Linked DNA regions of Homo sapiens. The protein of the gene in region 1 interacts with the protein of each later gene in a pairwise test. Each region holds a gene or a part of one and is shown on either strand. Other genes may lie near its edges.

Region 1 (3,753 bases):
TGGTGGCTCACACCTGCAGTTCCAGCATTTTGGGAGGCCGAGTTGGGTTGATGGCTTAAGCCAGGAGTTTGAGACCAGCCTGGTCAACATGGTGAAACCCTGTCTCTACTGAAAATACGTGCTGGGATGCTCCTGTAATCCTAGCTACTTGGGAGGCTGAGGTATGAGAATTGCTTAAACCCTGGAGACGGAGGTTACAGTAAGCTGAAATCACGCCACTGCACTCCAGCCTGGATGACAGAACAATACTGTCTCAAAACAAAAAAAGAAAAGACAAAAAAAGCTATCTTTTAATATACCAAGCACTGGAACATTAATTACTTTATTGATTCCTTGCAACCATTCCTCTGAGGTAGATACTAGTATCTTCTTTTACAGATGAGGAAACTGAGTCCGAGGCTGAATAACATGCCCCGGGTTGTGTGGCTATTGGGTGATGGTGCAAGGATTCCAGAGGTCTGACGACAGAGCCATAGCTATTAATGACAGCACTAAACATTCTCTTGAAAATTCTTTCTAGTCCTGGTATTAGGAGAACTGGTAAGGGAGTTTGTTATGCTTTTATGAGGGGTGGGTGTCGGTGTGCAGAGCTTGGAGAGCTCAGCCCTGCAGCAGAGAGGCCTGGAGGGGCCTCCCGGGGCTGTTTGTAAACTCATGCTTTCCTGTGCCATCCGCAGGACCCTCAGTGCAGGTCAATCTCCCCTCCATTTCAGGGAATCCAGGCTCCAAAAGGACACAGGACTTGCCCAGCAAGGTCATGTGGTGAGGTGAGAGCCCAGCCAGGACTGGTCCCCCCTTTTCATCAATCAAGCTTATGCTCTGGAAATCTATCTGGCGAAGCCAGGAAAACTGGACACTCTCCTGCTCCTTGGTTATTCCCTGAGAAAATGCCAGCAGAAGCAGAGAAAAGCACGTCCCAGGGGTTATGCATTTTGGGGAGGAAGGGAAAAAAAGAGACCAGTGTTTAGGCAGCCGGGGGATGTTAAGTAAAAATATCTCCTCGCTTTCAACGGAGTGAGCGTGTGTCATATTTCAGCCTGATGTGGTTTGTGAAGTTGGAGACCACAGGCAGGCTCAGTTCCTGCTGCTGGCCAGCTTCCCCTTCCCTCTGTCCCTCCCCTGCCATATGCCTGCTCTCGTCTGCCCTGCCTGGGACCACATCAGCAATTTAAGAATAGGGCAGAGAAAAGCAGTGGGTGTTGTGGGCAAGGGTAGGCAGCTGAAGGCCTGGGCTTGGGTCCTGGCTTTGCCAGTGACAAAGTACTGGGTGACTTGGGCTAATGCATGCCTTTCTCTGGGCCCCAGTGTCCATTCTGCACTGTAGGGTGGACAGCATAATGTCAGCCTTCCCAGCTCTGATGGCCTCTGAGTTGGAGGGCTTTGTGCTCCCCACATGTACTTGGGTCCGGCATGTCTGAGACACAAAGTGAGCCCGCAGTGGTGCAACTGGTGATTCAGCTACTGTTCTTGAATTTAATCTTTTCGGACTGAATTGATTGCCCCATTTTGCAGATAAGGGAGTTGAGGCCTAGGATTTGTTGATGTATCCCATTCCCTGCTCTACAAGCAACAATAATAAGGGCCACCATATGTAACACACTTACTATGTATGTTCACCTTTTGCTTTCACTATCTGCTTTAATCTTTTAACAGATCTACGAGGGGAGAGATAGTGACTCCATTTTACAGATGAGGAAACTGAGGCTCAGTTTAGAAAAATGAAAGGACTTACGTTCTCTTCTTTGAGTCTCACAATAGTCCTGGGGTTGTCATTATGTGACCCATTTTACCAGTGAGGAAACTCAGGCCTGGAGACGTGAGCTCCTTTGCCCAGGGGTCCCCAGGGCCCACACACAGCCTGTCAGGTTCCTTCCCAGGCCCTCCTGCTCCTCCCTCCTCCCTTGCTTGCTCTGCCTCATGGGGAGCCTCTTCACCTCTTGCATTCAGTGCCTGGGTTAAGGGATGAGAACAGTTTTCTTCCTGGGCTATAAAGTATCCCTGAAATTGACTCTTCCCAAGAGTGATCCAGAAAGGCTTTAAGCCATGGAGCCTCGCAGGGAACTCCAGTGAAGGGGTCGCACCAGTGGGAGTGGATTCGTTTATTCTGCTGAGCTGGCTAAGCAAACAGTCCTGTTATTTTCCAACCTCAATAAGAATATCATCAGAGCCAAGCTTATTTGCCAAGCAAAGTATATATATTCTACATATGTGAGCCTTCAGGGTGGGGCTTGGCCCTTAATTTCCCTGCTACAGAGACTGTGGCTGAGCTGGGTTTTGGTGGGTACTAAGTAAATACTAGTTAACTTGTTGGGTGTGTGTTGATGATGTGGGTGGCATATGTACTTTTTTCTCCCCACCTCCAAGGACCTTTTCCCCCCACCCTTATTATTTCTATTACACTTGTGATAGAAAATTTAGGAAATAAAAAAGTATATATATAAAAAAGAAGTGTTCATAACTAACCAGAGAAAATCACTGCCAACACCTGGGTGCCCTTCCTTCCTGATATTTTCAGTGCATTTTTTTTTACCCCCACACAATTATCCTATATTTATAATTGTCTGTTCTGACTTTCTGTTTTTTCTCAACATTATATCGTAAGTATTTTTCTCATGTTATTAAGGATTCTTTTTAAATTTAATTTTTAAAAGTTTTAAAAGCATACTATACCTAAGTAGATAAATGTTTATTCTAATTTAAATCTTTTATTCCAATAGTCCTAGGGATTAAAAAATGAAATAATGCTTTTTATTTATTAACAAAAAGGCTGAGAGAAACAGGATTTGCCCAAGATCACCCCCAAAGAACCAAGACTGGGGCTCCCCAGGGCTGTAGTTTGCATCCATAAATACAGAGAGAATAATGTTTATAATCTTGGGTATAAAAACTTCTGGTGAAAAGGTTGATCAAATGCTAGCTGTATTTCTCCCCCTTCCATGGCTTTCTACTGAGTCTCTCTCTCCTACAGGACCCTACTTTGCTCCATAATTAAGCAGCAAAGTATTTCAAGAGCTGTTCAGATTCTAGAAACTCATAGCAGATGAAATCGACAGATAAGTCAGATATCGAATATAGACATTAAAAGATCTGGGCACTAGGCTGTACCCTGTTATTGTCAGTGGCTCTTTAGTCCTTAAACAAGGGTCTTGCCTCCTACTTTTTTTTTGTTATGGTAGAAATAAATGCCCACCCGAGTTTTCATCACTCACTATTATTCTATCTTTGGTGTGCCTGTACCATGTTCCCTTAACAATCCTCAATTATGAAACATTTAGGCAGTTTATAAACAATACTGCAATGAACAACCTAGTGCATACTTTTTTTGTGTGTTCTTCTTTTATTATTTCCTAGAAGTGAGCCCTAGAAATGGAGTTCCTGAGTCAAAATGACACATTTTATAGCTTTTTCTTGTTAAAAAAAAAATTCAGTGACACTTGTGAAAACACGGTAAGGAAGTCTTTATTCAGGAACATTGCCTTGGGCATAGGGACCACTGCAACAGGGTCCTACAGTGAGGGAGAGAGTTTGGGCTCAACTCCTAATACAGCATGGGCGAGTGGGAATTGATAGCTGCAGAGCAGGGTAGGGGTCAGCGGATGGAAAATTACTAAGAGGAAGCTCAGGAATAAGGGATATTCTTGCTAAACCGACCTAACAAAATTATTGATGAAGACAAACCAGGGTGATTCAAACATCAGTGGGGGCATGGTGGAGGATGAGGAGCCTGATCAGATATCAAGGATGAGGGGTTCT
Region 2 (3,753 bases), on another chromosome or scaffold:
AGTTAGCTAAATCAATATTATCATGGCTTCTGGGGAGAAGATATAAAAACATAATTAGAGAAGATCTGTTTATGCACCTATGTTTCCTAATTTGGAAATGAGTTTACGACTGAGATTTTATTGTTTAAGAATAGGTTCAAAAATCCATGGCAGTCATGACACTTACTTTTAAACTTGCTTTTATCCAAATCTTCCACATGGTCCTCCCCAATTAAAATCTTGGCAGCAACTTCTAGGCTTACTATCTGAGGCGTTGACACCAAAAACAGCATCACAAATTTCTGGCTCATTACCCTTAAAGACTTGTCTTTGCGGCTGTTTACAGAAGCTTTAGAGAAGGATGAGGATTAGAGAATTAAAATTCATAAAGGGACAAGTGACTTCTAAAGTAACAAGGCTAAAAATACTACCACCTGATCATACAGCTGACAACTGTGGCATCTGAACATTAAAGGCAGCAGTAGCTTTAGAGCTGTGTTCTCCACAGAACCTTTTCCTTAGACAGAGGACAAATGCCATGCCGCCTGGAGTTTTCACTACCATCTCTCACCTGCCCGAAATTCCACTCCAGGGAGTTCCACAAAACACATGTCTGGGTGTCCATTTGGGCCAGTGTTTGATTTGATGATATGATCCTCTATACTGTAACTCTTAATAAAGTCAAACTCTTGCTCATATTCTTTCTTTTTGATCATCATAATCTGCTCGGCGTACTTATTCTCCTCCCCGATGCTCTTCAAGGTGCCAAGGGTTTTGTTGAGATTGTGTCGCCCGTGCCAAGTGTACCTGTTTTTGGCGAGGCGGCTCACCATATGTAAACTCTCTAGGACGTTCACGATATCGTAAATGCGTCGACGTTCAACATCTACAAAGAATGTGCAATTGTGTGTTACAGATTTTTGTAACGTGTTTAGAATTGAATAGCTTTTTCTTCCATTGGTTTATTAGTCAGTAGGTCTTGGATAATATCACTTTCCTAACTGTAAGTGAACATACTCAACAAATACTGTGAAGGTGAGAAAGACATGTGCTTGCTTTCCAAGGGCACAAATCATATGAATTAGAAAGGCAACATTTAATGAGGGCCTAAGTTGTGCTACACAGCTTTAGGAAGTTTTCACCCTAAACTTGTGAAGTAGGTATTATGATCTGCACTTTAAAAAGGATGAGAAAGGCCGGGTGCGGTGGCTCACACCTGTAATCCCAGCACCTTGGGAGGCCGAGGAGGGCGGATCACGAGGTCAGGAGATGGAGACCATCCTGGCTAACATGGTGAAACCCAGTCTCTACTAAAAATACAAAAAAATTAGCCGGGTGTGGTGGCGGGTGCCTGTAGTCCCAGCTACTCAGGAGGCTGAGGCAGGAGAATGGTGTGAACCCGGGAGGCGGAGCTTGCAGTGAGCCTAGATCGCGCCACAGCACTCCAGCCTGGGCGAAAGAGCGAGACTCCGTCTCAAAAACAAACAAACAAACAAAAAAAAAAAACGATGAGAAAACAGAGGCTCAGACCAGCTAAGTAGCTCACCCCAAAAGAGCTAGCAAGTAGCAAACCAAGTCTTTAAAACTCTACATCTCACACCTTCCAACCGCTTCCAATACAAACACGTACACACACGCCCATCTGTAATGATCATAAGATAGAAACAAAATGCTGAGATTTCAGAAAAGTACAAAAACCATGATGTAGTTTTTAAAAACTTACATAAAAATAAAATATGCCTTTTTGGGTCTAATTTTGCTTACTTTCTAGCTATCATTAACAATATGATATTAGTAATTCTGTGACTCTATCTATTTAAATTGGGTTTTCAATATTCTGTAATGTTAGAATTCTCTTCGTTCAAGAAACTTAATTTCAATTTAAATATTTGATGAGATCAGCCTTTCTGGAAAAGTGATCAATAAAACACTATTTTAATAAGGGTGCATCCTACCGACCTCTTGCTGTCCCTGGAACCTGCCAGATATGCACTTGCTTTGTACCGGCTGTTCCTTCTGCCTGGAACCCTTCTCCCTGATGTCCTTACAGCTCCCTACCTTGCTTCTTTCAAGTCCTTGCCCAGATGTCACCTTCTCAACGAAGCCTGATCTGACCACTTATGGCAAAGCACCTCCCCAGCACTCCTGATCCCTTGATCCTGATCTACAATTTATTTTTTCCACTATGCATGTTACCTTCTAGCATGTATTATCCTTACTTACTTCCTATATCCTTTACTCAGTATCTATTGCCCCACTAGAATATAGGTTCTAAGAGAGAAGAGATTTTGCCCTTTTTGTTTACGGATGTATCCCAGGCTCCTACAACATTGCCTGACACATAGTAGTAGAAGATTAATAGATATTTGCTGAATATCCTACCCAGCTACCATTAAGCATATATGAAAAGTAGATGAATCTAAACGGTATATTCTTAAAATGTGAAATAAAGTTGATATTTACAAACATGTATTAGAAGGGCAACTTTTCTTCACGGGGTGATTGCTTTGTATTAAAATGTATTATCTTGCACAGCACATCACTTCACAGGTTTAAATTAAGATACCCACATGACTCCAAAGGTACCCCAAATTCACCACGGGCCCCTTTTTAGCTCCAAATAGATTCAGGTCTTTGAACAGAGTAAAAAGGGGCAGGAGGAATAACTTGTGCCCAACACAAAACATTCAGAAAACTAGTCCTCAGAATAGTGCTGAAGGTCCAGGAGTGCACAGGTCCTGTTCCCACTCACAGAAGCTGATCCTCAGCGTCAACTAGGAAGATAACCATTTATCAGCCTGATTCTTCAAGAACAGCAAGGGAGAGCAATGAAGCAAAAGTTCACAGTTGTAACTTTGTGAAACAAGTCATGAGACAATATTGCCTTTCTTTAAAGCTTCAGAGACAACTGTAGTCAGAAGCAACCTCCATTGTGACTTTTCTGCCTCCAAGATTTGCTGAAATTTGCAACTACTTACCTTCATTCTTATATTAGAAGAGGGCTTTAGAGATAGAAAATTTCCATGCCGGCTTATTTGTGTCATTTACAAACACTGGCTAGATGAGCGGGGGTCTGAAGGAGTTAAGTCCATAAAGCCACTTTAATTATTAATTCTTTCAGTGAGTTCTTTGCATACTTACTAAGTTCCTCTGCCACTTCGTCAAGGCAGATGTCATTATTCACAGCAGGGTTGGGATAATTAGGATATCGTGCTAAGAACTTATGACACAATAATCCTAAACTTTTCTCTTTTCGACTTGGTTGGGATTTCTCAAATTCATCTCCAGATAAGTGTTCCTACAAAGGAAAAGGTAAACAATGTCTTATTCTAAAATAAAGTCTGACAGATTTATTAGGGGCATCTGTGCTCGATGACTGACACCAACTTACACACGCTTAGCTTCAACAGCTGCAAAGTCTGGATGGGAGAAAAGGTTAGGGGGGCCAGTACAAAATGCTTGGCAAACCTGAAAGGAAAGCCTGAAACGAAAATAACGCAAAGGTTCAGAATTCCCAGAGCTATATTTCTTGGGGTCCAAACCTTTCTGGTGCTCCGAAGGAAGTTAATAACAGCCTTCGGGTGGTGATGCTTTAAATTGCTGGCACTTCTCTAATAGCTACAACCTCCCCCCTCCCCCCAACAAATTCCCCAGCCTCCAACCAGTCCTCTGAAAACCTACGTGTATACAGTCTTTGGCCTCAGGTAATCCACTTCTGTTGTCAAACAAACCCCTTTTCTGATCTCTGTTGCGGATCTCAGGGCTCACAGCACT
Region 3 (3,753 bases), on another chromosome or scaffold:
AGAACCGGTGCCCTTAGCCCTCGCCTGCTGTAGCGGGCACACTCAGCTCTGTGCAATGAGCTATAATGCCTGGGAAAGATGCCAAGCTATTGAGGCCGAAGGCTGTTGTTTCCTGGAAGAGCAATTCTGTGTGAGAAAGAGAACGTAACCTCTTCAAAACCTTGCCCACTCCCCAAAATGCATGGATAATATTTAAAAAATTATCCCTGAGATTTCTTATCAAATCCATGAGGTTCTTTCCAGTTTCAAGGATTTCACTGCCTGAAGAGCTGGGGACAAGCGGTTTTCAACCCATCACCTTTCCCTCTGTCCATGTTTATAGGACTTGGCCACGCCCCCTATGCAGCTGTTAGCCTAATGAGTGATGGCCCTCAAGGATCCAATCGGAGAAATGTGCAGGAGAGATTAGCTGTGGGTGGCATATTTTAAAGCAGTGTTTACTGCAAGCTGTTTTTGAGCTGCTGTTTGTCAAAAAGCCAAAAAATCATTTTAAAAAATATTTCTAAAGCCTTTAAAGTTTATAAAATGCATTTGCATACATTATTTTTTTGTGTTCAGAATGGCTTCATTCTGAGATAGCTCATTTTACAAATGAAAAGCTGCATTTGAGAGAAGACTGAGATGACTTGGACCTAGGTCCCCTGGCAGAACTCCACACAGCACCACATTCATGCTCATGGACACTCCCAAATAACATTTGCCCTCCCTGTGCCCTGTGGATGTCAAAGTGTGCTTTGGAGGACATCTCTGTCCTTCCAGTGTCTGCAAAGGGCTCCAGAGTCATGTGCTGCAACCATTCCTCCTTCATCTCCCCACCCACCGTAAAATGAGAGGACAGATAAGGCAGTAGGGTGTGGTGGTTTAGAGTGTTAGCTCTGGCATCTGGGTTTAAATTTCATCTCCATGAATTATGAGGAATGTGATCTTGGATACTTTATAATACTTCTCTACACCTCCATTTCTTCATCTGTAACATGAAGGTTATTACTACCCTCATCAGATTGCTGGGAGTATCACTTGAGATACCCTGTTGATGAGCACTCCTCAGTACATAATAGAAGCTCAATAAATGCTAGTTGTTAGGTCCTTTCCAGCTCAGATATTCTATGATTCTATGGTTGTTTAATAATGGGTAGCATTTTTTGAGTACTTAATACATTCCAGGCACTTCTAAGCAATATGTATATGAAAGATTTTATGTATATGTATACATATAATTTCACATATACATATAAAATCTCATCCTAACCTCATAACCGTACTCTAAAGCTTGCACTGTTTTCACAATGATACAATGCCCATTTACAGACGAGGAAATGGTTATCGGAGAGATTAAACAACTTTACTTTGATCATGTAATTAAAAAGAAGCAGAACCAGAATTCTAGCTTGAGAGCTGGCCTTAACTACTTTGCTTTTCCTCCTATCTAAGAAAGTAGAATTAAGTCTTTTCATAGTTCTGCTTGTTTTTCTTGTCATTGCCCCCAAACAAAAAAGAAAGCCTTTCTGATTTAGCTGTTTGATCTCATTCAGGAGAATCTCCCCACAGTCACTGCCTGACCCATTTATTATAACATTATTTTGGATTTGGTGAATACAGTATACCAAGAGGTCAGTCCTATTTCCCTCTGACTATAGTATAGCCTAGGAAGCTTATGAAGAAAGTGCCCATAACAGAAATACAGCATATCTGCAAAATTTTCCATTTCCAATTTTGCAATTGTTCAATTGCAAAAAAGCTTCTAGATCATCCCAGCCTTGGAAGTCCAAACCAGATACACCAAGCAGTACTTACTGGAAGCCAAGAGGTCGCTGGTCCAGTGCTCAGGAAAGTGCCTTGTCCCGAGGATTCCTGAACTCACTCCTGCTGACTCTGAGCCTTGGTGCCTGGGTGAGGATTAAGCACAAACTCTGCTTGAAATCTGAACCACCAGGAAGTTCCCAAACTAATATCCTTGAGCAGATTTTATTCTTGCCCCAAACTGAAATGGAAGCTATGCCCTCAGGGGAAGTTCTGGGCCTTCATACTTGTGGCTTGCCACAGAACTCTCCTTGGTGTCCCAGCTGCCTAGCACCAAAAATGAAAGCAAACACATTAATAATAAAAAAAAATTCCTGCCAGACTTTGGACCATGGTCACAATAACCCTTATTGAGAACAACGCCAATTTACCCTCAACCGTCTGTGGTGACTACCATTGAAAAAAAATCCCTATGCCTCCCTCAGCCATATCTTAACCAATGTCTTCCTGGGAAGGGTAGAAAGGGTTCCTTTGTACCAGATGAGGAAACAAAAGCCTGGCTTCTCTAAACACTTGTACATGCCAATGGTTTCCAGGAAGAGTTGCTCATTCAGCCATGACAGAGTGTTACCATCAACAGGGTGGCGCTAGGCATGTTCCCCTGCACAGCCACCAACAGCAATTGAGCAAACCATCATTCTTAGACCTGGTGAGTGGTATCCAGCCACCAAAGGGTCTTAGGTATATTTTCATGTGTATTACAGATTTCTAGGGGAGAGGAAGAAGTGATGATGAATTTTATCCTGTTCTACTGCCTTTAGAAGTAAAAGTACATCATTTGAATCCTCATCCTCACGAGGGTAGCTGGTCTGGAATCAGCTCTGCCATGGATCCATTGTGTGGTCTTGGCAAGTTAACTGGAGTTCTCTGAGTCTGTTTCCTCATCTGCAAAATGGAACAGATAATACTGACTTCACAGGATTTTTTTTTAAAGTTAAGTAAAATTTCACATATAAAAAGCATCTAGCACAGTGCTTTATCCACAGTTAGCATTCAACAGAGGGTATTTCTTTGTTTTTCTCTTTTGCATCCTATGGAGGGTAGATGTTATTGGTTTCTTCATTTAGCAAACCTAGCTGGACTTCAGGCATACAGAAATTATTGATATATTGTTTGCTTCCTGCACAGGACCAGTTTTGCTTGATTTAGGAAAAACAATTTCTTAATTTTGATATAGTTTGGATGTCCCCTCCAAATCTCATGTTGAGATGTAATCCCCAGTGATGGAGGTGGAGTCTGGCTGGAGGTGTTGGGTCCTGGGGGTGGATCCCTCATGGCTTGGTTCTGTGTCTGAGATAGTGAGTTGTACTGAGGTCTTTATTTAAAAGTGTGTGGCATCTCCCCCAACTCTACTGCTCCCACTCCCACCAGGTGACATGGCTACTCCCGCCTCACCTTCCACCATGCGTAAAAGAAAGCCCCCTGAGGTCTTCTCAGAAGCTGAGAGATGCCAGGACTATGCTTCCTGTACAGCTTGCAGAACCATGGGCCAATTAAACCTCTTTTCTTTATAAATTATCAAATCTCAGGTATTTCTTTATAACAAGACAGAGATAGACCTAACAGAATTTCCTGGATGTTCTTTTGGGCTAACTTTTGATAATTCTGGAGATAGTCTTAATGTCTTTACATTAGAATTTTAATCAGATACCAGTTGTAGCTCTAAGTAGTTCATAAAAAGCTTGTGCTGATTTCCACTTACTTGGGAACTATAAAGTCCAGACAGCCTATTGTTATAATATAGAGACCTAACCAAAAAGGGGAAGAGGGAAAATTACTGTAAGACTTGTGTTCCTTTGGAAAGGATACCGATGAAACAGTTAGATGTGCTTTCCATCAGCAACCTGTTCATCTGTCTGTCCCTCCACCTACCCACCCATCCAACCCACCCTATTCTAGGCTTTTTTGTATTATTTTTCCAATAGTATTACAAAACTCTTTGGAGGAAGAAGC

Evidence for each region.
Region 2: the proteins of GSN (region 1) and E2F8 interact in binary tests that used the Homo sapiens proteins (3 or more experiments, as listed by UniProt).
Region 3: the proteins of GSN (region 1) and PLEKHS1 interact in binary tests that used the Homo sapiens proteins (3 or more experiments, as listed by UniProt).

What each region holds. Positions count from the first base shown.
Region 1 is NC_000009.12:121,271,097-121,274,849, forward strand, and holds part of GSN (gelsolin), read left to right. Parts: intron 1-713; exon of another isoform or gene 714-767; intron 768-3,753. UniProt on the Homo sapiens protein: Calcium-regulated, actin-modulating protein that binds to the plus (or barbed) ends of actin monomers or filaments, preventing monomer exchange (end-blocking or capping).
Region 2 is NC_000011.10:19,234,194-19,237,946, forward strand, and holds part of E2F8 (transcription factor E2F8), read right to left. Parts: coding exon 3,661-3,753; intron 3,278-3,660; coding exon 3,121-3,277; intron 866-3,120; coding exon 551-865; intron 329-550; coding exon 167-328; intron 1-166. UniProt on the Homo sapiens protein: Atypical E2F transcription factor that participates in various processes such as angiogenesis and polyploidization of specialized cells.
Region 3 is NC_000010.11:113,749,803-113,753,555, reverse strand, and holds the start of PLEKHS1 (pleckstrin homology domain-containing family S member 1), read right to left. Parts: upstream 1,875-3,753; 5' UTR 1,795-1,874; intron 1-1,794.